Linked DNA regions of Homo sapiens. The protein of the gene in region 1 interacts with the protein of each later gene in a pairwise test. Each region holds a gene or a part of one and is shown in the gene's direction. Other genes may lie near its edges.

The links.
Region 2: the proteins of KLHL15 (region 1) and DCLK2 interact in binary tests that used the Homo sapiens proteins (3 or more experiments, as listed by UniProt).

The regions. Positions count from the first base shown.
Region 1 is NC_000023.11:24,015,114-24,027,551, reverse strand, and holds the start of KLHL15 (kelch-like protein 15), read left to right. Parts: upstream 1-365; 5' UTR 366-412; intron 413-2,493; 5' UTR 2,494-2,695; intron 2,696-12,438. UniProt on the Homo sapiens protein: Substrate-specific adapter for CUL3 E3 ubiquitin-protein ligase complex.
Region 2 is NC_000004.12:150,071,873-150,085,038, forward strand, and holds the start of DCLK2 (serine/threonine-protein kinase DCLK2), read left to right. Parts: upstream 1-6,572; 5' UTR 6,573-7,155; coding exon 7,156-7,576; intron 7,577-13,166. UniProt on the Homo sapiens protein: Protein kinase with a significantly reduced C(a2+)/CAM affinity and dependence compared to other members of the CaMK family.

The DNA.
Region 1 (12,438 bases):
GGATTGCTTGAGCCCGGGAGGTCAAGGCTGCAGTGAGCTGAGATCATGCCTCTGCCCTCCAGCCTGGCCGAGAGTGAGACTGTCTCAAAAAAAAAATAATAATAATAACATAAAAATAAGAAATAAGAGTGAAAGAGGCATCATTGATTGAAGATAACTTGGGGAGGGGTTCATATAGTAAACGTATAGATTGATTGAAAGACACAGCCCAGTTTTAAAACTACATAAATATCCAAAAAAGCACATTTGAAATTCCACGAGACCTTGCAATGTCAAAATAAGGAGGGACGGGAAGCACGGTGATCACACAATGGCTTATGACATACACTCACTACATTTATACCTGGTACAAAGAGCGCAGAAACGTTTCAACTCTTGCTTGAATCAAGAACAGAAGCCTCTCTTTAGACAGGTCAGTGCCACATAGTAATGTATAGCTTAAAATGTTAGTTAATGTACAAAAATCCAAACTCAGCGTTTAGATGTTCGGGAATAATGCATGAACATTTAAATATTCAGAAGTGGAATGTATGCATTTTTAAAGTTTATTTTATGATTTAATTTTAAAAATTTGTTTTAATGTGAAATTCTGGGGTAATTTGTCATGTAGTAATAGATACAAATATGGCAAGCAGGGATTTTTAAATAATGAACAGAAATATCTTAAAGGAGCTATTGGAAAAGATGGAAAGAAAGTGTGAACAACTTGGGAATTTCAGTGTCTTACAGTTTTTTTAAAGCTTGTTATAGTTTAAATCGGAATAAGGAAGCGTATTTCCAAAAGATTGAAGTGATTGTGTTATCTCTCCCACGAAGTAGTCTACTTCAGCAAAACAGTACACCGTGTGCTATTTTGGCCTCTTGGGAAAGATGGTATGTTCAAGTTTGCTAGAAAGAGATAATTATCGCTTTTAGCGACACCTCTCACGGAAAGTTCATCGGGATATTGGTCTAGAGAGAAAATGGCGGCGGGGGGTGGGGGTGGGGGAAGCCGAAATACCTCAGTTTAGGATCTGCTATGGGCAATGGATGCCCTAATTTAAGGTTAATTGTAGATCCACGGGCTTCCAACTGTGTATTTCCGTCATCTACACTTTTCCCAGAAAGAGATGCCATAATAAATTTACAAAACAGTCCTATAGTCTAGTTTTATATTCTTGTCAAGAAAAGGTAATATTTAAAAAGTACTAGCTAGAATTCTATAAAAAACGAACAACAAAAATCACTGCCCTCTGAATGTTCGTTCTTGATTATTTTGACGCAAGTAGAGACAGCTTTTTTAAATCCGGCATTATCTCCGGGTGGTGCAGACATGCAATTTTTTATGAATTTTCCCACCCTTGGGAAATCGATTTCTGAAACGTGTAATTGTTGTGCAGTAAGCCAAGTGGACAGTGACGCAATAGTCCACTGCAAGTTGCCTTACAAAAAATGATGTCATTTGGCGCAGATCTAGTCACTTTTATAACAGGTAGCTATGGAAAAGCTCCCTCCACGTTGTCCCCGATTCCCCCACCCCCACCGTGGCCAAGATGCAAAAAGACACTTTCCTGGCTTCCTAGCCCTCAACTTGTCGAGGGTGGGCGCACCGCAGTGGCTCAGGGCCCATCGCTCGTGCAGGCGGAGAGAGACCGCTGCAAGGGGACGAGGACAGCTGAGTGTCCTCAGCCCCGACGGCGGCGCCGCGGGGGAAGCTGCGTCGGGCCCAGTCCAGGGCCGCGACGCCCGGCCGCCTGTTTTCCTCGGTGGGAAACCGCTGGCGTGGCGGGCCGGCAGCCGGGACGCGGGGCGCCGCGGGCGCGGGACAGCCTTCCCCGCCCCCCCTTCCCCCCCGTTCCCACACCCGCTCCCGCTCCCGTGGCGCCGGAAGTGACGCGTTTTGGGCTGAAAGATGGCGGCATTGGCGCTCGACCAGGGGGAAGGTAAACACCCGCCAGGCCACGGGCTGGCCCCCTCGGGGCGCCAGCAGGGGCCGAGGGGGGGGCCTCCCGGGCCAGCTCCCCGCCCCCAACGGCTTCCCACCCTCCGCCCTCTCTCCCAGCGTGGCGGCCTTCCGCGTCAAGACGACAGCGCACTGGGCCCCCTGCCGGCCAGCCCCGCCTCCCTGGGCGGGCCCCGGGCGGCTCCCGCGGCCCGCAGGGGGCGCGCGGCCCGGAGCGGCCCCCGGCTCGTGGCCCCGCACGCCCCGCCCCTTCCCCGCCCCTTTCCCGCCTTCCTCCACCCCCGGCGTGGGTGATCCCGAGGCTCGGCGCGCTTCGGGGCAGAAGCCCAGAGACGCCGTCCTCGACGCTTCCTCGGCTGGTGCTTCTGTCTCTGCCTGCTGCCCCCCAGCCCTTTTCCCCGCCCGCGGCCCCAGTCGGCCCTCCCGCCGAGCCCCGTCGGGTGCTGCGAGGCCCCCGGCGTTGGCAAGGTCGGTCCGGGCCCCGACGCCGCGCCGCCTCGTGCGGAGCCCGACTGTCTGGTTTCTCGACTCAGCGCTGTCTTCTTTCCCAGGACTTATCCAGAGGGGGCTGCAGGCGAGCACTCTCGTGCCCCGCCGGAGCGACCCGGCTCGTGCCGGGAGCGGCTGCTCGTAGACGTCCGAGGAGCCTGCCGAGTGCCGTCCCGGCGCCCGACCGCCCACCCATCGGCCCGCTGGCCCGGTTCTTCCTGATGCAGACTGCCGTCCACTAGAGGCTGGACAGGACCCCCCGAGGTACGTAGCCGCCCCTGGCCGCCGGCCTGCGGAGCCCGGGCTTCGCCCGCGGCCCCGAGCTAGGCACGAATTCGCCGGCCCTCTCTGCACGGACCCGAGTCAAACATTTGGTAGACGCCGGGACCTCGTTTGTCTTCGAGTTTACTTAAATTGTTTGAAATGTAATTTTTTTTTCCAGAGAGAGCGAGAAAGAAAAAGGAAGAAGCATAATTCAGCCATTTTTTGCAGCACACAGCTGCAGGTACCATGATTATTTTTTGCCTAACCCGTTCCTTCCCTTTAACAATTCAATTTATGCCTGAAATAGAACTATGCAAAATGCGAGGCATAAAACTAGGAATCGGAAGGTCTGGGTTCGACTTGGGTGACTCTGAGAAAAAATCGCGTACCGAGCCTTGGTTTCTTATCTATGAAATATAGTCGGTACTACCAACATCGCAGGGTTGAGAGGACTATATGAGGTCATATATGTGAAAATAATCCTTAACTGTAGAGTGTTGTAAGAATGCAAGGCCGTTTTTTAAGTAACCTTTGGTAGAGTGGTTAATGTAGTGGCTAACTGTTGCTGCCTCTTTATTTCTATATTATAAATATAAGCAAATAAGTACGGAATAATAGTAAAGCAGTGCTGTGAATCCATAGATCTGTAATAGTCACGTTGCTTGGCCTTCCTCCTACGAAGTGCTAACTGCTTATTTAAATAACGGTATTCTTTAATTCAAATGTAACGTTACCGTAGGGGCTTTGCTTTTCATCGTTCTAGGCCGCTTTAGGCCCCTTTTCTTACTCCAAATATTTAACACCTTACATTTGTTAGTCTTTTCTGTTTTCCGAATTTGTTTGCCTTTGTTAATCTGATTAAGTGGTAATTTAGAAAATGCTTTGCAGACATATATGCCCTAATTTTAATGCCTGTTTTTCATATCTAGGGAGCAGGATGCTTGAATACTTCTACTAATTTGAAAATTGGTTTTGAAGAGCTTATCAATGCATTCATGTTTCAGTAATCCTTAATAGATCTAGAAATGTATAGAACATTTCAACTTTTTAGCACTTAATGTAATTATATAATTTTATTCTCATTTTTAATCACAACACGTAGTAGGTGCTTAGAGTCACAGTTTATCAGTGGTAGAGGATGTTAACTTGCACTCTTCATTGCTGATTAATTTGGGGAAAGAATAGGATAGTAAATATTTGTGGTTTGAAAATTGAATTTATTTTGCCAGGATTTATATGTGTAACAGATTAGTATTGATCATTTTTACTTGGCATATCAAAAATATAGTATGGTTTGGCTTAAATGGTCCACAAAAAGTGAAAAGAGAAGCATTTTTGGGTATATTGTTATTTTTAGCTAACAAATGGTTTTGAGTAGTTAGATGTTTTATTAAATTTATAATCCTCTAGTCCAATACCAGTTGTCTTTCAGAGTATGCTTTTGTGTTTTGTAAAAAGGCAAAATAATAGAAGTTGGGCAGGATTTACATAGTAAAAGGAAGAGCCTACTTCAAAGTGGCTGGTTTTATAGATTGGATTTATCACTAATCTTGATAAAATTTTGACAAATCATTGCTTTATTGGGGATTTCAAGGTTTGACCTTCTCTCTACCTCGAGTCGGGTTATCTCAGAAACCTAACCTTGATCAGGGCAGGCTTGGCTTCATGGATGTTCAGAAGGGCCCCACACTTGGTTTAATAATCTGCATGTAAAACTGGGATTGTACAGTATAAGGGTGAATGGTAAAATTCATGCTAATTTAAATTTTTAATTTTCCTTTACTCAGAACGACATTAAACATCAAATTTAAAAAACACTGAGAGCCGGGAGCGGTGGCTCAGGCCTGTAATCCCAGCACTTTGGGAGGCCGAGGCGGGCGGATCACCTGAGGGTCGGGAGTTTGAGACCAGCCTAACCAACGTGGAGAAACCCCGTCTCTACTAAAAACACAAAGTTAGCCTGGCGTGGTGGCGGGCGCCTGTAATCCCAGCTACTCTATTCCCAGCTACTCGGGAGGCTGAGGCGGGAGAATCGCTTGAACCCGGTAGGCAGAAGTTGCGGTAATCCAAGATGGCGGCACTGCACTCCAGCCTGGGCGACGAGAGCAAAACTCCGTCTCAAAAAAAAAAAAAACCGCGAAACAGTTGAGAGATACAGAAGAAAGTTTTGAAAGAGCTTTACATTTTATTACCTTTAACGACTTTTTTTTTTTTTTTAAGACAAGAGTCTTGTTCTGTCGCCCAGGCTGGAGTGGAGTGGTGCGATCCGATCCCCGCTCATTGGAACCTCCACCTCCCGGCCTCAAGCGATTCTTGGGCCTCAGCCTACTAAGTAGCTGGGATTATAGGCGCTCGCCACCACGCCCGGCTAATTTTTGTATTTTTAGTAGAGACGGGGTTTCACCATGTTGGCCAGGCTGGTCTCGAACTCCTGGACTCAAGTGATCTACCCGCCTTGGCTTCCCAAAGCGCAGGCGGGAGCCACCGTGCCCAGCCTTTTTTTTTTTTTTTTTTTATCTTTTGAGACACAGTCTTGCTCTGTCTCCCAGGCCGGAGTGCAGTGGCGCGATCTCGGCTCACTGCAACCTCCGCCTCCCGGGTTCAAGTGATTCTCCTGCCTCAGCCTCCCGAGTAACTGGGATTACAGATGCGCGTCAGCATGCTTGACTAATTTTTGTATTTTTAGTAGACACGGGGTTTCACCATGTTAGCCAGGCTGGTCTCGACTGACTTCAAGTGATCCGCCCGCCTCGGTCTCCCAAAGTGCTGGGATTACAGACATGAGCCACCGCGCCCGGCCATCGCCCAGCCTTTTAACAACATTTTTCCCTGATTTTGAACAAGAGTCCCCGCAAATGATGTAGGTGGCCTGTTGTCAAGCCTGGCCTTTCCCAGTGCAAATGTTTTGAGAGTGAATAATGTTAACTGTGAGGAGAATGAATCTTTAGCTTAGAGGAGGTGGATTACTTTATTAGCATCTATTTTCTCTGAATTGGAGTGCTATAGCTCATGTGGTGCTTTTTTTTTTTTATTGAAGAGAAATGAAAGATGGAGCCATGGGTGAGGCATTGTAGAACAGTGTTTAATAGGGGAGGCTATGAAGTCAGGCAGACCCCAACTTCACAACTTACTAATAATTATAGCCTTGGGCAAGTTACTTAACCTCTGTGAGCTTTGATGTTCTCATCTTTAAGTCGGGGATGGATACAAAACATGGAAGGTTGCGAGAATTAAATTTATCTGTCTTTCCAACAAATATTTATTAAGCACTTATTATGTGCCAAGCACTGTTTTAGGTGCTGGAGATGCAACAGTCAGTGAAGCAAAACCGACAAATTGAAGCAGAAAGGAAACTAAGTAAAATGGATAGCCTGTATTGCCATTTAATATACTGCAGAGAATAATAAAGTGGAGGGGCATGGGGATTGTCAGGTTGATGGGGCAGATGGGGTTTTGCAACTTTAAAAGAGGGTGTTTGAGGAAGGCCTCACTGAAATGACACCAAAGACCCTAAGGGAACCATATATATCTGGGGATAGTGTGATCCAGGCAGAGGGAACAGGGTGTAGAGAGGCCTTAAGTTGGGAGTGTAGCTGGTTTTCAAGGAACAGCGGCACCAAGGGAGATAGTAATATAAGATTATTATTATTGCCATTTTAAGAATCATTGGAAAGGCTCTCATAGTTCATCTCTGCCAAGGGTATATGTTGTATTGCTGCTGGTCCAAAAGTGGAAGACCTTTTCAGAATTTGAAATTTTAACTTTGCAAGTAAGAAATTAGGAAAGACAAAATATGTTGTCAGGTTTTCTGTTTTTAACGTAAGACCCTTAAAGCTCATCAGGCTCAATCACTGAAACATGTAAGAATGGATAGAAAAAAATACCCTTTGTCTCTGATAAGATCTTTGAATTTAGTTAATGATATATATTATAGACTAATGATTTGCAGGAAATCTGTATCATAACAGCAAGACTTTCCAAAATATTTAGTTTGGTTGTATAATTCTTATGAGGAACTGAAAGGCTAACATTACAGTATTTGTGATTTCATGTTAGAATAGAACTTAGAAGATTTGGGGTTTTATTCCCCAATAGAGGCTTTTCCTAGAATTCTCACTGGATCCAATCTCTAAAGGCTAGGGAAGCTGTTTTCCATGACATCACTCTTGGACTACTTCTAGTCATAGTGTGGAATAAGCAGAGAAGCATTAAATTAAAGTCTTCTGATGAAAAATAGCATTCAAGCAGGGTTTTTTTTTTCTTATAAGGCTTCTTGTATTATAGGATGACGAAATGCTAAACATACCTGAAAAGTGAAGTAATTTGGTGCCAGTCTGGAGGCTGGAGGACCCAGGGCCCTCCTAATAGCTTAGTTAAATGGTCATTTGCAATTTGGTCCTGAGTTATAAAAATATTTTGATGACAAGAAAGAATTTCCAGTATTAAACAAATTAAAGTTAACTTACACAACGTCTCCTCCCATATTAAAGTGAGTTTTCAATTTGAGTAGTGTATTGAGAGTAAAGTGACCGCTAATAGAGCTTAAAAGTCTGTCTTTAAATTTGTCTTTTCTTTTATATTGGTATGTTGAGAAGTTGGCTGCTTTGAGATTGTCAAATTTACATTTTTTTACTTTATGGGTTACAGAAGTGAGAAATGTTATGACTCAGAAATTAATTCTGTTTTTATCCGTAGTAAGCCTTTGCATTCTCTTTTCGATATGCAACTGTGGCATTTTCTGCATAGGCATCAATTTTGGTAGGAGAACAGTTTGGGGATGAAGATAGTATGAAATCATTTAAATTTTTCATTGAGGGTAAGTATATTATATCAACCTCTGAGAATCTAGCTTTTGCATTGAATACCTTAAGCTTTTGTATGAATTTTCAAGCAGCTGTGGAAGGAATGTGAAAGCAATAAATTATTGCTTATGGCACAAACATAGAGGTTAATTTTGAAATGTCTTTTAATTGCCTATAATTTTGCCTTCACATCAGAATGGCAGCCTTATAACTGAAAAGGAAGCATTTAATTTCTTTGCCTTTAATTTCCTGTCCAGTTTTACCCCCACCAAACTTCTTTTTTTACTGGTCACTAGAGAGTTTGAAGTGTTCAAAAATTCTGTGATATAAATAGCAGTAATAGTCTTCCAGGGCAGAGGTAGGAAGAGGTTGAGGTTTGTGCGTGCACGTGTGTGTGTGTGTGTGTGTGTTGTCACTTATCTCTTACACTTTCAGTTGTTCTCAAGCCTGTGGTCTCAGGACTTCTTTGTACTTATTTGTACTCTTAAAAATTAGTGGGGGCCGGGCTTGGTGGCTCACACCTGTAATCCCAGCACTTTGAGAGGCCGAGGCGGGTGGATCGCTTGAGGCCAGGAGTTCGAGACCAGCCTGGGCAACATGGTGAAACTCCGTCTCTACTAAAAATAAAAAAATGAGCTGGGCGTGGTGGTGGGCTCCTGTAATCCCAGCTACTCAGGAGGCTGAGGCAGGAGAATCGCTTGAACCCCGGAGCAGAGGTTGCAGAGATCATGCCACTGTACTCCAGCCTGGGTGCAGAGTGAGACTGTCTCAAAAAATAAATAAACAAATAAAAATTAATTCTATTACATGGTAACCTAAATAACATTTTTTTATGAAAAATAACTTTTCTAAAACAGTTAAGAACTTGGTGAAAAGAGTGGCATTGTTTTAAATTTTTGCATATCTCTTTAATATCTGGCTTAATAAAAGCCAATGGGCTTCTCATCAGCTTCTGCATTCAGTCTGTTGCAATATCACATACCATGTGTAAACCTCTAGAAAACAGAATGAAAGTGAAAAAGACAAATAACTATTCTTTATTTATGTATTTATTTTGAGAAGGAGTCTTGCTCTGTCGCCCTGGCTGGAGGTGGCGCAATCTTGGCTCACTGCAACCTCTGCCTCCTGGGTTCAAGCAATTCTCGTGCCTCACCCTCCTGAGTAGCTGGAATCAGACGCACATGCCATCACCCCTGGCTAAGTTTTGTATTTTTTAGTAGAGATAGGGTTTCACCATATTGACCAGGCTGGTTTTGAACTCCTGAGCTCAAGTGATCAGCCCACCTCTACCTCCCAAGGTGCTAGGATCACGGATGTGAGCCACTGTGCCCGGCTGACCAATAACTTTAAAAAAATTATTTGGATAATAATTTTGACATTGGGAAGCCCCTTTAGTGGGGACTGGGATCTTTTAGGACAACTGGATTCACTTGTCCCCAGATCATGCTTTGAGAATCCCTATACTAATCATTCTTAGGCACAAAAATGTGAGGCTTTCTTTTATTTAGTCAGTACCAAGTTTATGAAACAAGACACGTTCTTCAGTATTTCTTTCCTGGTAGTATAAGTATGCCTTGTCATTTGGTCTAATTGGTTTCCCTCTTGAAAAAAAAAAAACCTACTATTTGAAATTCTGAAGGCCATGTATAAAGTGTTGATAAACCTATATATGAAAAGTAAGGATACAGAATTTTTGTACATTGAACATTTTGTCAGTAAATGTTTTTCCTCAAAGCCTCTTAAATTTTTCCTCCAGCACTCATTTAAAGAGTTCTTATTTAAGGTTTTTGTGTTTTACAATGATTCGTTTTTTTCTTTTGGGAGAGTGGGGCTACGCACTTCTTGTTGAGCACGCTACTGCTGCCGCGGCTGTCTCTGCCATTGCAAAGTAGTTCTTATAATAGTTTTCTTCCTTAAATTGATATAATTCTGTACTTAGATTTCTTTTTAGAGACAGGGCCTTGTTCTGTTGCCCAGACTGGAATGCAGTGGCTTCATCGTGGTTCACTGCAGCCTCGACATCCTCACCGCAAGCGATTTTCCTGCCTCAGCCTCCCAAGTAGCTGGGGCCACAGGAGCACGCCACCAAGCTCTGCTATTTAAAAAAATTTTTTTGTAGGGAAGAGGTCTGGCCACATTGCCCAGGCTGGTCTTGAACTGGATCAAGTGATCCTCGTGCCTTGCCTCCCAAAATGTTGGGATTACAGGCATGAGGCCGCTGTAACCAGTTAAAGAATTATGTACACAATTTTTTTTTTTTTTTTTTTTTTTTTTTGGGACATGGTCTCACTCTGTTGCCCAGGCTGAAGTTCAGTGGTGGATTATAGCTCATTGCAGCCTCGGCCTCCCGGGCTCAGTTTATCCTCTGACCTCAGCCTCCTGAGTAGCTGGGACTACAGTCACACACCACCACGTCTGACTAATTTTTATGTTTTTAGTAGAGATGGGGTTTTGCCACGTTGCCCATGCTGGCCTCGAACTCCCGAGCTCAAGCGATATGCCCATCTCGGCCTCCCAAAGTGGTGGGATTATAGACGTGAGCCACTGCGCCTGACTCTGATCTGTTATAAATCTGCATTATGATAAACCCTAGGGAGGCATGGGGTTGGTAGAGAGGGGAGACTGAGGGTTCTCACTTAGGTTAATTCATTTATTCACCACCCTAACTTGATAATAAGATGATGATGATTATTAGTAATGTATGGATGGAAACCAAGATAGGAAGTTAACAAAATTTCTGTAGGTCACACAGTAAGCACTCTGATTTCAGAGGTTTTGCTCTTTCCGACCACACTATTTTGTATTTTTTGCAAATAGAATCTAATTTTTTTTTTTTTTTTTTTGAGACAGGCTCTTAGTTTGTTGCCCAGGCTGGAGTACAATGGCGCCATCTCAGCTCACTGCAACCTCTGCCTCCTGGGCTCAAGCAATCTTCCTGCCTCAGTCTCCCAAGTAGCTGAGACTACAGGCACACACTACCACGCCCAGCTAATTTTTGTAGAGACGGGGTTTTGATATGTTGCGCAGGCTAGAATCTAGTCTTAACTTTATTTCTAGCTACTAGTTCTATGACCTTGAATAAAAAGTCAGTTCACCCGTGGACATTATTACTGTCTTCATCTGTGGAGTTAGAGTTGACCTGGGTCCTGAGTCTTGAGAAACTATACTCAGAAGGTGGGCTGGGGGGTTTCTTCAAAGTTAACTAGATCAGGCTTACTATTTTGGCTGTAGTAGTACCACACGAAGGGGCATGATAATAAGCCTTAATGTTACAGTGTACTTAAGGTCCATGCACTGTACTAAGTGCTTTACATCCATTAACTTACTTTATTATCGCAGCAACCTGTAAGGTAGGTTCTATTAATATTAGTACCCCAATTTTTTTTTTGAGACATGATCTCACTCTTTTGCCCAGGCTGGAGTGCAGTGGTGCCATCTCTGCTCACTGCAATCTCCGCCTCCTGGGTTCAAGCGATTCTCCCACCTCAACCTCCCGACTAGCTGGGATTACAGGCGTGAGCCACAACACCTAGCCAATTTTTTTTTTATTTGTAGTAGAGATGGGGTTTTGCCATGTTGGCCAGCTGGTCTCGAACTCCTGACCTCAAGTGATCCACTTGCCTCGGCCTCCCAATATGCTGGGATTACAGGCATGAGCCACTGCACCTGGCCAAGTATACCCCCCCTTTTTTTTTTTTTTTTTTTTTTTTTTTTTGAGACAGAGTCTTGCTCTGTCGCCCAGGCTGGAGTGCAGTGGCACCATCTCGGCTCACTGCAAGCTCTGCCTTCCAGGTTCACGCCATTCTCCTGCCTCAGCCTCCCAAGTAGCTGGGACTACAGGCTCCTGCCACCATGCCCAGCTAATTTTTTAGTAGAGACGGGGTTTCACCATGTTAGCCAGGATGGTCTCGATCTCCTGACCTCATGATCTGCCCGCCTTGGCCTCCCAAAGTGCTGAGATTACAAGCGTGAGTCACCGTGCCTGGCCTGAAGTACCCCAATTTAAAAGTTTTAGATTTTACACTTTTTAAATTAATTAACTAATTAATTAATTTGAGATGGAGTTTCACTCTTGTTGCCCAGGCTGGAGTGCAGCGGCCCGATCTCGGCTTACTGCAACCTCCGCCTCCCAGGTTCAAGCGATTCTCCTGCCTCAGCCTCCCAAGTAGCTGGGATTACAGGTGCCAGCTACCATGCCCGGCTAATTTTTGTATTTGTAGTAGAGACGGGGTTCCACCACATTGGCCAGGCTGGTCTGGAACTCCTGACCTCAGGTGATCTGCCCACCTCGGCCTCCCAGACTGTTGGGATTATGGGCGTGAGCCACCGTGTCCGGTCCAGATTTTACATTTTAGAGCACAGAGAGGCTGAGTAGCTTGCCCCAATATCACAGAGCTAATAAGAGGTAGAACCACGCTTCAAACCCAGGCATCTGACGCCAGACCTATACCCTTACTTACTACTACCATCTAGAGACTCTATCATGTTGGTCACTTAATCACTGAGTGTTTCACTGTTTTCTACTTAATACACGCTTACCATAAAAGTGTAAAGTACTGCTGCTCCTCTAAAGTTGTAGTCTTATTGATAAATGCACTAAGCTTTTTAGGTAGAAAATAAGTTACTGCATATGTCTCGGCTATCGCAGATGAGTTTTAAAAGTGTTTAGATCAGGTAAACTTCACAAATGCGTTGCTGAGACTTTAAAAGTAGCTATAGTTTATTTAACTGGCATGTGTATTTAGTGTGTTGCATATTTACAAAATCATATAAAAAGAATGAGAATTTTAGGACTAAAAATATTTTAGAGATCATGTCTAGTGCTCTTGTTTTTACAGATGCAGAGAGAAGGCCAAGAAAATTTGAGTAACTTACAGATATTTCTGTTCTAAAATTATTAGTTAGGACCCTTGGTTATAAGTAGGAAAAATCAACCTAAGG
Region 2 (13,166 bases), on another chromosome or scaffold:
CATTATAAAATATTTATTATCCTTTAAGTACTCTTGACCATCATTGTTTTAATCTGATATGTAGAATGACATGAACATAGTTTGTCACATTCAGTATTTGTATAAACATTGAAGGTACTACCGAGAGGAGAAAACCACTAAAATCATGATCAATTTTAACAAAAATAATTTTTTAAAATTTTAAATGAAGCAAAAAACCTAGATTTAAAGATTAAATTTTATATTGGGTTTGGGAAATTTCATCCTACAGAAACAAAATGAGAGTACTGTGGTACTTTTCATGATCTTTCACTTTTATGCCTAGATTTCCTCATCTGGAAAGTATGAATTCTACTAGTTGCCCAGATTTTCTTCTTACGAAGATTTAAGAGGAACAAATTCAAATTCCTAAGAAAAAAGTTGCTATATGATTTTAAAGTTGTTATTTTTCATCAATAATTGTTGCATCTGAACTGGCAAATGACAAAATAAAAATATAATTTTGAATATATAAAATTTACATGACATATAAATTTACATTATATGTATGGAGTCTTTGTCCTAGACACTTTATGGAAGTTTACCATAGAAAGAATCAGAATTTTCTCATGGAAAAAAACAGTAGTTGTGTGCCATATATATTTAAAGCATGCATATTTGATTATTTTCTTCAATTCTTCTGATATTTTCATTTAAAAATTAAACTTACAATTTTTTTTTTCAAGAACAGAGTCTCATCCCTCTGTCACCCAGGCTGCAGTGCAGCTGCACAATCACAGCTTGCTGCAGCCTTGACCTCCTGAGCTTATGCAATTCTCCCACCTCACCCTCTGCAGTAGCTGGGACTATAGGCACGCACCACTGCGCCGGGCTAATTTTTTTTTTTTTAATATTTTGTAGAGATGGGAATCTTCCTATGTTGCCCAGGTTGGTCTTGAACTCCTGGGCCCAAGTGATCCTCCCGCCTCAGCCTCCCAAAGTGTTGGGGCTACAGGCATGAGCCACAAGCCAAAATTTAGATTTTCTGAAAGACTTAACCAAACAGGTACATTCAAATTTTTTGAACCTGAAAAGGTAGTTTCAATTATTCCCTCACTTATTTGTGAAGAAATCATTAATATCTATGTAAAGTGCTACAAGAATCAGGGGTGAAAAGGACAACGAAGCTCCAAAGGCAGAAGAACTATTGAGAAAACAGTTTGAGCCTTTTTTCCAGTCTAGGTACAGATTATGGGGTAGAGATGGAGAGTCTGCTTTTGAGCTGCCTTACCTTATACCCTTCCCCATTAAAGCTTAACAGAAAGCACTAGAACTTATAATTATTAAGATTGAAATGAGAATCATGCTTAGTTTCAAAAATTTAAGTCTATAGTCACCGGGTGCTCTCACTTAAAATAGTTTAGTTATTTCATCATTTTTTACTTCTGGGAGAAATTCTTGGCACATAGTGAACAGGAATGAAAACATGAGACAGCAAAAAGTCTCAGCACAGTGCAATCTGAAAGGTTCAGAGGCATCCTTTATGTAATAAGTAATGGAGTCACTGGAAAACTGCCTTTAAAAACAGAAGTCTCTTGCCAAAAGTGAAGACTAACCATAGCATTTGAGGAATAAAGCAGCATGAGGCAAACACCAGGAAATGTTCAAGGCAAGTTTCTTATGTAAAGACCCATAATGAAATATTTAATAAAGTCTCATTTAAACAAATTATGCTAGATAAAAATTTGCATTGTATTTCTTAGTCAAGGTGGAGTGGGGTTGAGGGAGTAAGCAGGAGAGGGAATTACTACCTGGCTAAAAGCAGCTCTAAAATTGTATCACAGGTGTGTGATACAAAGAGAAGTGTAGAGAACAAAGAGAACAATTTCTTTTCCTTTATGCCCAGTTGAGTTTCTCTGCCCCAAGTGGTTTGTAGAAGACCCTTCTTGCATACTGCCAACAAAATTTTCACATCCACTAGATATTCCATGATTTATAAGTATTATAAATAAAAAGCAAAAGGGGTCATTTCTAGTTACACAAAAAGGGGAGAAGAGTTTTTGGGCTGAAATTCTCCAATGGCCTTTAGCAGAAAAATGAAGCCTTTTTAAAAATACTTGGCACAAAAGTTTTTATTCAAGTAAGTGTTAGGTTAAGGGGAGTTAAAAAGAGGGTTTTTCTAACAACACTTTTTACAACCAAGAGACATCTAAGGTTAAAGTGGGCTTCCAGATAGTGAGGAGGCATCTGTGGCCAGCTCTTCCTAAAGAAGCTCCTTAAATCAGGGTGTGGCAGACAGAGTTGGTGGATCTTGTAACCACCAAGAGAATTAGACCATCTCTGGAAGGACCAATGATTAATAATCAGATGGCCTTTCTTCGTTAGAAAAAAATGAGTATCTCAACAAAGAAAATGCCCATTAAAATGTCTTACTCTGCAAATTCTGCAACTGCATGAAAGGAAAAAAATCTGCTTCGGTTCTATAAATTGAATATCATGAAGTAAGCCAAGTTAAGTAATAGTTGCCTACCTAGAACCTACAAATTTTGTTTGCATTAGAATTTGAATACTGAAACTAATTTTTTCCTACCTCAACAAATCTTCAAATGTTGACCAACTGGGTCTTTATATCATATTTTTTCATAGATACCTTATGAAAAGTGATTGCATCTCAATTCTTATAAGAGGATCACAAATAAGATTCTTCAAGAAAACAAGTGTGGAGAGTAGGATCAAAAAAACATTTTTTAACTAAGTAACAGCTTTGGAAATACTTTCTCTTTTCCCCCTACCCCTGTTGAAAAGCAGTAACCTTTCTTTAACTTAAGGATATAATGTTAGGGAATAATGTTAAAATACTGGCATATTTTTATTTTTTTAAATTTTACTTTAAATTCCAGGATACATGTGCAGAATGTGCAAAGGTATACATGTATACGTGTTCCAAGGTGGTTTGCTGTACTTATTGACCTGTCCTCTAAGTTCCCTCCCCTTGTACCCCACCCTCCAACAGGCCTTGGTGTGTGTTGTTCCCCTCCCTGTGTCCATGTGTTCTCATTGTTCAACTTCTACTTATGAGTGAGAACATGGGGCATTTGGTTTTCTGTCCCTGTGTTAGTTTGCTGAGGATGATGGCTTCCAGTTTCATCCATATCCCTGCAAAGGACATGATCTTATTCTTTTTTATGGCTGCATAGTATTCCATGGCGTGCATGTGCCACATTTTCTTTATGCAGTCTATCACTGATGGGCATTTGGGTTGGTTCCATGACTTTGCTATTGTAAACAGTGCTGCAGTAAACATACGTGTGTGTGTGTGTCTTTATAGCAGAATGATTCATATTCCTTTGGGTATATACCCAGTAATGGGGTTGCTGGGTCAAATAGTATTTCTGGTTCTAGATCCTTAAGGAATTGCCATATTGTCTTCCACAATGGTTGAACTAATTTACATTCCCACCAACAGTGTAAAAGTGTTCCTATTTCTCCACAGCCTCGCCAGCATCTACTGTTTCTTGACTTTTTAATAATTACCATTTTGACTGCCATGAAATGATATCTCATTGAGGTTTTGATTTGCATTTCTCTGATGATCAGCGATGTTGAGCTTTTTTTCATATGTCTGTTAGCTATGTAAATGTCTTCTTTTGAAAAATGTCTGTTTATATCCTTTGCCCACTTTTTGATGGGGTTGTTTCTTTCCTTGTAAATTTGTTTAAGTTCCTTGTAAATTCTGGATATTAGACCTTTGTCTGATGGGTAGACTGCAAAAATTTTCTCCCATTCTGTAGGTTGACTGTTTACTTTGGTGATAGTTTCTTTTGCTGTGCAGAAGCTCTTTATTTCCATTTGTCAATTTTGGCGTTTGTCGCAATTGCTTTTGGTGTTTTCACCATGAAGTCCTCACTCATCCCTATGTCCTGAATGATATTGCCTAGGTTTTCTTCTAGGGTTTTTATGGTTTGGGGTTTTACATTTAAGTCTTTAATCCACCTTGAGTTAAAAATACTGGCATATTGTATAATTGTACTCACTATTTAAGAAGGGCCAAATCTCTTATCAAGGATCTTTGAGTGAGGAAGTGCATGTTAGTGTTCTAAAGATTGAAAGATTGAAACCCGTGGTACCAGTCTGCAAGATGACCCCAATAATTGCTGACTCCTAGTCACACCCTAGTGTAGTCTCCTCCCACATCAAACAGGGCTGCCTTGTGTAACCTACAGGATATTGTGGGAATAACAGTGTATGACTTCCAAGGCTATATCATAACACACATTGTGGCTTCCACCTTGTGCTCTCTTGGATGCTTTCTCTAGAGCAAGCTTGTCCAACCCATGGCCTGTGGACTGTACACAGCCCAGGACAGTTATGAATGCAGCCCAATGCAAATTCGTAAACTTTCTTAAAATATTATGAGATTTTGTGATTTTTTTTTTTTTTTTAGCTCATCAGCCATCATTAATGTTAGTGTATTTCCTGTGTGGCCCAAGACAATTCTTCTTCCAATGTGCCCCAGGGAAGCCAAAAGATTGGACACCCCTGCTCTAGAGGAAGCCAACCGACAAGTCATGGTGACACTTAAGCAACTCTATGGAAAGGTACTCATGACAAGGAACTGAGGCCTCCTTACCATTCATGTGAATGGGCTGTCTTGGAAATGGATCTTCTTGACCCAGTCAAGCCTTTAGATGGCTGTGACCCCTGTCAACATCTTGACAGCAATCACATGAGGCTTTGAGGTAAACTGCTCCCAGATTTCCGATCTGCCAAAAATGCTGAGATTATGCATGTTTATTGTTGTAAATCATTAAGTTTAGGATAATTTGTTTCTACAGCAATAGTTTACAAAGTCTTTTTCCCCCTAAGAAATACTAACAGTGATACAAATGAACATGGCCATCTTAAGGCAAGTTGATGGGCTCTGTGGAGTTACTGGTACTTAGATGGAAACTTATCTCAATAAATTTGCAATTTAGTTTCTTGTTTCTCAAAGTCTTGTACCAAGACCAGCAGCATTGGCATTACCCAGGGGCTCATCAGAAATGCAGAATCTCAAACTCCACCCCAGAGCTACAGAATAGCAATCTGCATTTTAACGAGATTCCCCTATGACATGTAAATATATTAAAGTTTGAGAAGAAGCACTGATTTATTTGATTCCTGGTGTTACAGCCTGTGGTTGGAAACTCTGGATATACCTTAGGGGTACTTTTAAAAAAATACTGTTGGAGAAGCCCGTCTCCAGAAATTCTGATTTAACTGATCTAGGTTGAGGCCTTTTAAGGTGGTGGACCTAATGATGCTGCAGGATTTTCCTCTAGAAAAACTACATTGAAGCCTCAGATCAGCTCTGACTTCCTAGCATGCCCCAACCCCGCAGGAAGTTAGGTATGCCCAGGTGTATGCCCAGAACTGCCTTAGGAGTAGTATTGTGCACCGAGCAGGAGACCTTTCTGGAGCTGCCATGAAGGGTGTGTATGCGTGTGTGTGCGTGTGTTTGGTGGGGCGCACCAACTTCACAGATGCTAGACCGTTGCATGTGCTTCTACCTTCTTTTATTCATGCTCTTCCAGGACTCAGTTCAACCCGAAAAAAAGCAACTATGCCTTTCTTCCTGAAAGGTCAGTTTGGATTGCTGTCTAGGGCTGCTCAGAAAACCAGGTGTTGAATGTTCTAAGGTTTCACGTGCCAAATTGGGATCAAACATATTTGAGCTTTATTTTTCCTAATAACAAAATGCAAGTAACTAGTATTTCTCTTAAGTCTTGGAAAAGATGTTTTTATTGTTGAATAGACACTACGGCATTAAGATTTCCACTATGATGGGTGCTCACAAATGATAGGCCTCTTAGGTAAGAAGCTTTAATTGACAACATTAAATATGCGGGGCGGGGGGAGTGGGTGCAGAGTCTCTCTTTCCTTTGTTAGGGCATCCCAGTGACAGAAACAATGCCTGACACATGGTACGCTCTCGATAAATATTCGTTGATTACATAACCCCCTCTACCACCCAATAACTTCTCATCATTCATTCAAAGTTACTGAACGTACCATATTAGCGAATCTGCAATGGAAACAGTGGAGGCTGTTTTCTCAAAGGATTTTCTAATAAAGCAACAAATCTTTTTTAAAAAAAATGAATGGTGTGCCCCAAGTCAATGCTGGGCTTCGGATTTCTGCGGTAGTTTGGCCTGGGGTCCTCACTGGGATGCTGGCTGGGGATGTGCTCCCTGCCCTTGAATCTCCTTCCTTTGTAGTTTTTGGCCTGCGCGGTTACGTTTCCCAGGCGGAGGAGCGCGCGTCGCGGCTGCGCCCATTAACGCGCGGCGCCGGGCAGGAGCCGTCAGGCGGGCGGGGCTGCCCGGGACCCGCAGGAGCTGCTCCTCCCGCGCCGGCGCTCGGCCCCCTCCTCCGCCCCCTCCTCCGCCCCCTCCTCCCCTTCTCCGCGGTTTGGCATCCCCGGGGCCGGGAAGCCTCCTCCAGCGCTGACAGCCTGTCGGCGGCGGAGGGAGGCCAGAGCGCGGATGCTTGCCAGTGGGCCGGGCCTGACCGCTGCGTGGGAGGCGGGCTGCATTATTTCCCGCTAGGGCCGCGCTCCAGGGAAGGAAGGGGCCAGACACGGCCCTCTCAGCCCCGAACGGCGCGCGCTGCCCGGCGGGCGGGATCCGGGCGCGGCCGAGGCGGCGGCGCTGCACCCCGGGCCTGGGCCCGCGCGACTCCCCCGGGGGCCTCTCCCACGCTCCGCGCCCCGCCCCACCCTTCCTTCCTTCCTCCCCTCGGCGCTCCCGGGAGCGCTCGGCAGACGCCCGAGCTTTGTGGGCGCCCGCGGGCCCAGCGCGAGCCTCGGGCGGCCCAACTTTGCCTCTCCCGGTCGGCTCCCGAGCGGGACTTGTGAGGCGTGGCCGGGTGGAGGAGGCGCTTGCGGGGGCGTGGGGCTCCCCGGCAGGCGGGAGGCACGGAGCAAGTCGCACTGGACAATGACCTGGGCAGCTCGGCGCTGCGGACACTTTTAGCTGAGGGCGCGGGCGGGTCGGCTCCTCCGCGGCTCCTCGGCCCCACCTGCGCGGAGAGGGCGGGATGCCAGAGCCAGGTGTCCCGGCGCGTTAAGGGCCCTCGCAGTCAGACGTCCCTGCACCGGCGCTCGCACCCTTAGTCGGCCCGGAACGTCTTTTTGCGGACGCCCTCGGAGCAGCCGCGATGGCCAGCACCAGGAGTATCGAGCTGGAGCACTTTGAGGAACGGGACAAAAGGCCGCGGCCGGGGTCGCGGAGAGGGGCCCCCAGCTCCTCCGGGGGCAGCAGCAGCTCGGGCCCCAAGGGGAACGGGCTCATCCCCAGTCCGGCGCACAGTGCCCACTGCAGCTTCTACCGCACGCGGACCCTGCAGGCCCTCAGCTCGGAGAAGAAGGCCAAGAAGGCGCGCTTCTACCGGAACGGGGACCGCTACTTCAAGGGCCTGGTGTTTGCCATCTCCAGCGACCGCTTCCGGTCCTTCGATGCGCTCCTCATAGAGCTCACCCGCTCCCTGTCGGACAACGTGAACCTGCCCCAGGGTGTCCGCACTATCTACACCATCGACGGCAGCCGGAAGGTCACCAGCCTGGACGAGCTGCTGGAAGGTAGGAGGGGAGGGCGCCGCACGGCAGGTGCGGCGGAGCGCCGGCAGGTGCAGTGGGCGTGAGCCGGCGCAGCGGGGAGCCCGCGGGGTGCTTTCCAAGCCGCACGGGAATTGATGCTTCTGTCTGCTTCTCTAGAGATTGGCTGGGGGTGGGGGCCGGTGGGGTGCCCACATACACACTGACTTTCCTTCCCAAGAGGTTTGTCTCTTAAAGAAGGAAAAAATTTCCTGATGGTCAGGCCAATTTAGGCACTGGTGGCATCTCCTAAGATTGTTGAACTTATTTGTATTGAAGTGCAAACTGTTTGAGAAAATGGTTCTCCCATGGGGAGCTGGGTAATCCCCTACTAATAAGCTCTGTTGGACCCTCGGTGTGGACCCTGGTGCAGGCTCCTGTCATGTTCCAGTATTCGGGGTCCTGTTGTGACTGCTGTCAGAAGCTGTGGTTGTGAAATGCTCTAGGTTGGCTTTCCTAGTTTGCCTTGCAGCAGAAGTTACTTGAGGTGAAGAGGGATGATCCTAGACAGCAGGTCTCAACCTTGGCTTCATCTTGGATCACACTGGGGACTTCGAAAAATATGGGACCCTGATCCCCCAACCCCCAGATATCCTGATTAAATTGGTTGGGTTTGGGGTGTGGGTTAGGCGTCTGGAGTCTCAAAAGCCCCCCCCCCAGGTGATTCTAATGTGGGACCCTGGTTAACAATCACCGTGCTAAAGGGTTTTCCACATTTGGTTGGAAAAAAGGTAAATCAAGGTCAATCTCTCCAGCCTTATCCTCTAATAAGAGTACCTAATTAGAATGATAGAGGCCATTGGATTCAGCAGTGGGGACTTATTAAAAATTAGTAATTCTGCTGTGTCAACCATGCCTCGGTCAAAGAGACTGCTTGGCTGGATGTTGGGTCATCCTTGAATTCCTGCAATACGTATGCCTCATCCTTTTCAGGTAGAAAAGGCATTATCAGTGGTTAAGAACCTGTTTCCAGTTCTAAATAACATCCAGAAAGACCAGGCAGAACCCAGGTATGTGCTGACTGCGTGTTTACATACAGTCCGCTCTTGTGCATCTTTCTTAATGCAAATGGCACATTCCATGTAGTCATAGCAATAGCTTGGCAGGGAGAGGAAGCTGAACATCAAGCCAGATGTTTTTCTTATATTATCTCAGCATGCTTTTCTGTCCTGAAGGCATTATCCCCATTTTATAGATGAGGAAACTTAGGCAGCATGCCTTGCCTCACAGTGCCTGCAGCATATACTTTCTCGTCTACGATTCACCTCTGCTGAGCTAATGGAGCCACATGGAGGAAAACTAAAGGTCGTTGAGTTTGTCTATTTAGTCAGAAGTTTTTGCTGCCCTGCCTAGAACGCGACCCAGCCAAAATTAAATTGTCTCTTCAGTCTACATATGTATGTGCTTGTGACTTCACCCATTCTGTCAGTTGTGTGTTTTGGTTTTAAGGGCTTCTTGAGGAGGTAAGGGGATAGCTGGAGGAGTATAAGTAAAAAAGGAAGATACAATGTTCAAAGGGCCTTGTTGCTTTTCTTAATCATGTTAAACACTTAAAAGCAATATTTGCCTAGCTATTTTAAAACAGAGTAACCAGTTGTTTGACTGACCCAAGATCAGATTTGCAGGATCAAGGCAATGCCTGTTTGCTTAAGCACTTGTTACTCAACATGCCATTGGGATACTACTGTTCCTGGTATGGTTTCTTAAGAGTCAACAATGTTAATATCCTTCTCTAAAGAAATTTTAACAGTGGATTTACTACATAAAATTGACATAACGTAAACATGAATCTCATAGGAGAGATGATAAGATGGACATTATGCATGTCCATTAATAGGAGTACTTAGTATAGATTGCGTCTTTTACCGCCCACCGCATGCATGTCCACTGGGTCTACTTCTGCAACTGTAGTTTCAACTACAAATTGACTTAACAAATTTCCTTCAAATCATTCACTGATTTTTAGTGGATGGGGATTTGGAAAAAACATTATCTATGGAGTCCAAATCATACCAAAATATGATAAATAATATAACAAATAGTTGCACAGCCAAAATTTTTTTTATGACTTTGCCCACTTCTTTGAAGAAGTTTTTAATACAATAAAATTACTGCAAAAGAAGAAAACTTGGACACTTTTTTTGTCATATGGAACTCTCTCTGACAATGGGTCTTTGTTTAATTCTTCAGTTTTCCCCCAAATTAGTAGAATACTCCATAGCAATGCAATTTTTTTTTTAAAGAAAATATAGGTACAATAGTTCACGTCTGTAATCTCAGCACTTTGGGAGACTGAGGTGGGTGGATCACCTGAGGTCAGGAGTTCGAGACCAGCCTGACAAACAAGGTGAAACCCCATCTCTACTTAAAAAAAAAAAAAAAAAATTAGCCGGGTGTGGCGGCAGGCGCCTGCAGTCCCAGCTACTCAGGAGGCTGAGACAGGAGAATTGCTTGAACCCAGGAGGCGGAGGTTGCAGTGAGCCAAGATCACACCACTGCACTCCAGCCTGGGCGATGGAGCAAGACTCTGTCTCAAAAAAAAAAAAAAAAAGAAAAGAAAAAAAGAAAAAGAATCACGAATGCTTACTGTCAATCATTCCAGAATGTAAGTAGTTTCAACTTTTAATTAAAATTGTGTGCTCAGATTTTTCATGTAGGAGAACTAAGCAGCTATCTGTGAAGTTATTTGCATTAGTAAAAATAAGTCTGTAATATATTCACCACATTGTCAAAATTGACTGCTTTATTTCGTTTTGGTTGATTATTTTTAATAAAGCTCTCTCAGGTAGTATTTTACAACATTATGTTCAACTAGGCTCTACTTCTTCGATCCCATGAAACTTGTAGTTTAAGAGGTATGTTTTTTTCTGAAATGTCTTGAGTGAAGAATAGAAAGTGATGACTCAAAACAGTAGGATATGAACATTCATTCAGAGCCCCAATCTCATTGAACTCAGATGACAAAAGAAATTTGCATGGCCCAAATTATTTTTTCTTCTGCCCTTGACCTTGAGAGTCTCTGGAGACTAAAAGCTGTTCTAGTGTGAGCTGGCACTCCTCCAGCACTACACTAAACCAGCAAGCACCTTCAATTTATTGATTTATCCATCCTTGCTGGATTAAGTTTGAGTTGATGCTGTGCAGTCCTGTAATCCTGTTTATTCTTTAAAACTAGTTGGGGGACCTCTTCCGGCAGGACTGTGGCTCTTAATCAATATTGGAAAAATTAGTTGAGCTGTCTTAAGCTGTGAGCCTGCTGAGCTCAGTATCTGTAATAACCAACAGAGAATGTCCAGATGACTTGTTCTTTAGCTTTCTTATTAGGGACTGATTCAGAATTCCTAGTCTTAGTTCTGTTCCGTGTGTCTTCTCTCCTTCTGAGCGTTTGGTCTTCTCTCCTTCTGAGCATTTTGAAATATTTATAAAGTTTTGATGACCTAAAGAGATATAACCAAGGACAGTAGAAAAAGTGCCTGACCAAGTCAGGATTCCTGAGTTCTACTGACTAGATTTGAGAAAAATTTCACCTCACTTCCCTGGCCTTGGCATCCTTTTCTCTAGGATGAGAAGTTGGCAGACCACCTAAGTTAGGTCTCTTCTGGTTTAAAAATGTGTATGTACCCGTTAATTATCTGAGGGGTTATTGTTGGAGCATATGATGGCTTGGGCTGCCATTCCCTAGCCAGAACCCATCTTCCAGAAAATCGATGAGGCTGCACATGTCCAGATAACAATCACAGAATGGGGTGTATATCTCTGATGAAGTGCTTGCCAAGAGTCAAAGGCATTAAGAGCTACCTGTGTCTGCCTCTCTCATTCCAAAATAAAATGTCATTTTGTTATTTCTACCTTTTATCCCTTCATAAACAATAAGCTGATTGTTTTTTGGCATATGAGAGAGTTTTGGTTATTTTGATAATGATACTTTCATTCCCTCATGAAGTTAACAGGGACATGTAAGAAAAATAAGATTGTAAAGAAATCAAGCCCATGAAGTTTGAGGTCCTCCTACCAAACCTATCTACCGCATCTGTTTGGTTAGGTCAGTTCTTTGAAAGTGTTAAATAAACCAAAATACGTTTCTGAGAATTTTTAAGTAAAAATGAATTTCCATAAGAACCTAGATTATACTTAGTTGTTTTTTCCTGAAAAATAAATTTTATAATAATAGAAACTGTGGAACTTATTATGGTAAGAAGGAAATAAACTCATGAGTTACAAGGTATTTGCACATAGGAGTCGAAAATGATGCACACTAAAGTCATGCATGGTGATTGGACTTGGAAAGTTAATATTGAATTTCAGGGCTGCAAAACGTTCTTTACCTGTGAAACCCCTGGATTCTTCAAGGCCCACTTCAAATAGCACCTATGAAGTCTCTTCCCACTTCTCTGGGCAGTTGGTCTCAAATGGTTAGTTGAGGGCATACTATGTCCTAGACATGGTCAAATGCCTATGGTCTCTTCCTTCAAAAAATGCACATTCTCCTGGGAGAGAGACAGTAAACATACAAACAAGATGGCTTCAGCTAAAGTGCTGTAAATGAAGTGGTGATGACATGGGGCAGGATGGCCATATTGGCCGGGGTGATGTGGAGGGCTTCCTAGAGGAACAGACATTGGAGCCGAGGCCTGAGGTCAAGTTTATAACTTTCCTCTGCTTACAGCATTTTTCTTTACTTCTATTATAACACTTAGCTTTGTAGTCTCATGATATATTGGATCTGTTTTTGCACTCAACTGAGAGAAGCCTGAGGTCAGGGATCTTAAATACAGTAAATTCATTGATTAAATAACTCAGACAATGATTTTACCTCTAAGTCCCTTAGTTGTCTAGGGAAGTTTTGTATGAGTTAAGCTTTAATGGGATTCCTAGATATTTGTGAAAATATATGTTTTTGGAAAATTGGATTACATGTTAGATAAACGTATAATTTTGGGTGAAATTCTGTGCTAACCATTTTGGAGGGAATGACTCTTCCATAATATCCCCTTCTATAAATCTGGTTGTCCCATCTCATTTCCTTAAAAACAAGGAAAATAAGATGTGCTATAATACAGCTGCATAAGAAGCTCTTTCCCGAGGTAAGAGGAAAATTTTCATTTAAAGAATAAATCCTAAAAGGTTGGGGAAGGAAAGGGGATATGTGAGAGAGCATTTATGAGATTAGAGTATGACACAGTGATACTCTGGAAGTTATAAGACAAGATTAATATCTAATGGGTTTTTAAACTATGGAAAAGGATATTTTTATGGTCCTGTAATATGAAATAAAGGAAACCAGATTCTCTTGGGCAGTGATCATCTAACTGCTTTCTTCATTGCTCGTGAGGCCGAGAGGAGTTGCTGCGGGGTGTGTACCGCCTGGCTAGGTCTTTTTTCTGTATCCCTTCCTGCCCATGCTACCACTGCATCTGTGTTTTTATGTCTTCTACTCGTAAAGTAAACCATTACCGTAAGGATTAGAGATGCTTTTCTTCTCTGCATTGCTACCATTTACTAGATGTTTTATGAGCAGTCATTGTGTGAGGTACTTTACATATTTCATCTAACCCTTGTAATACCTTCTGAAATA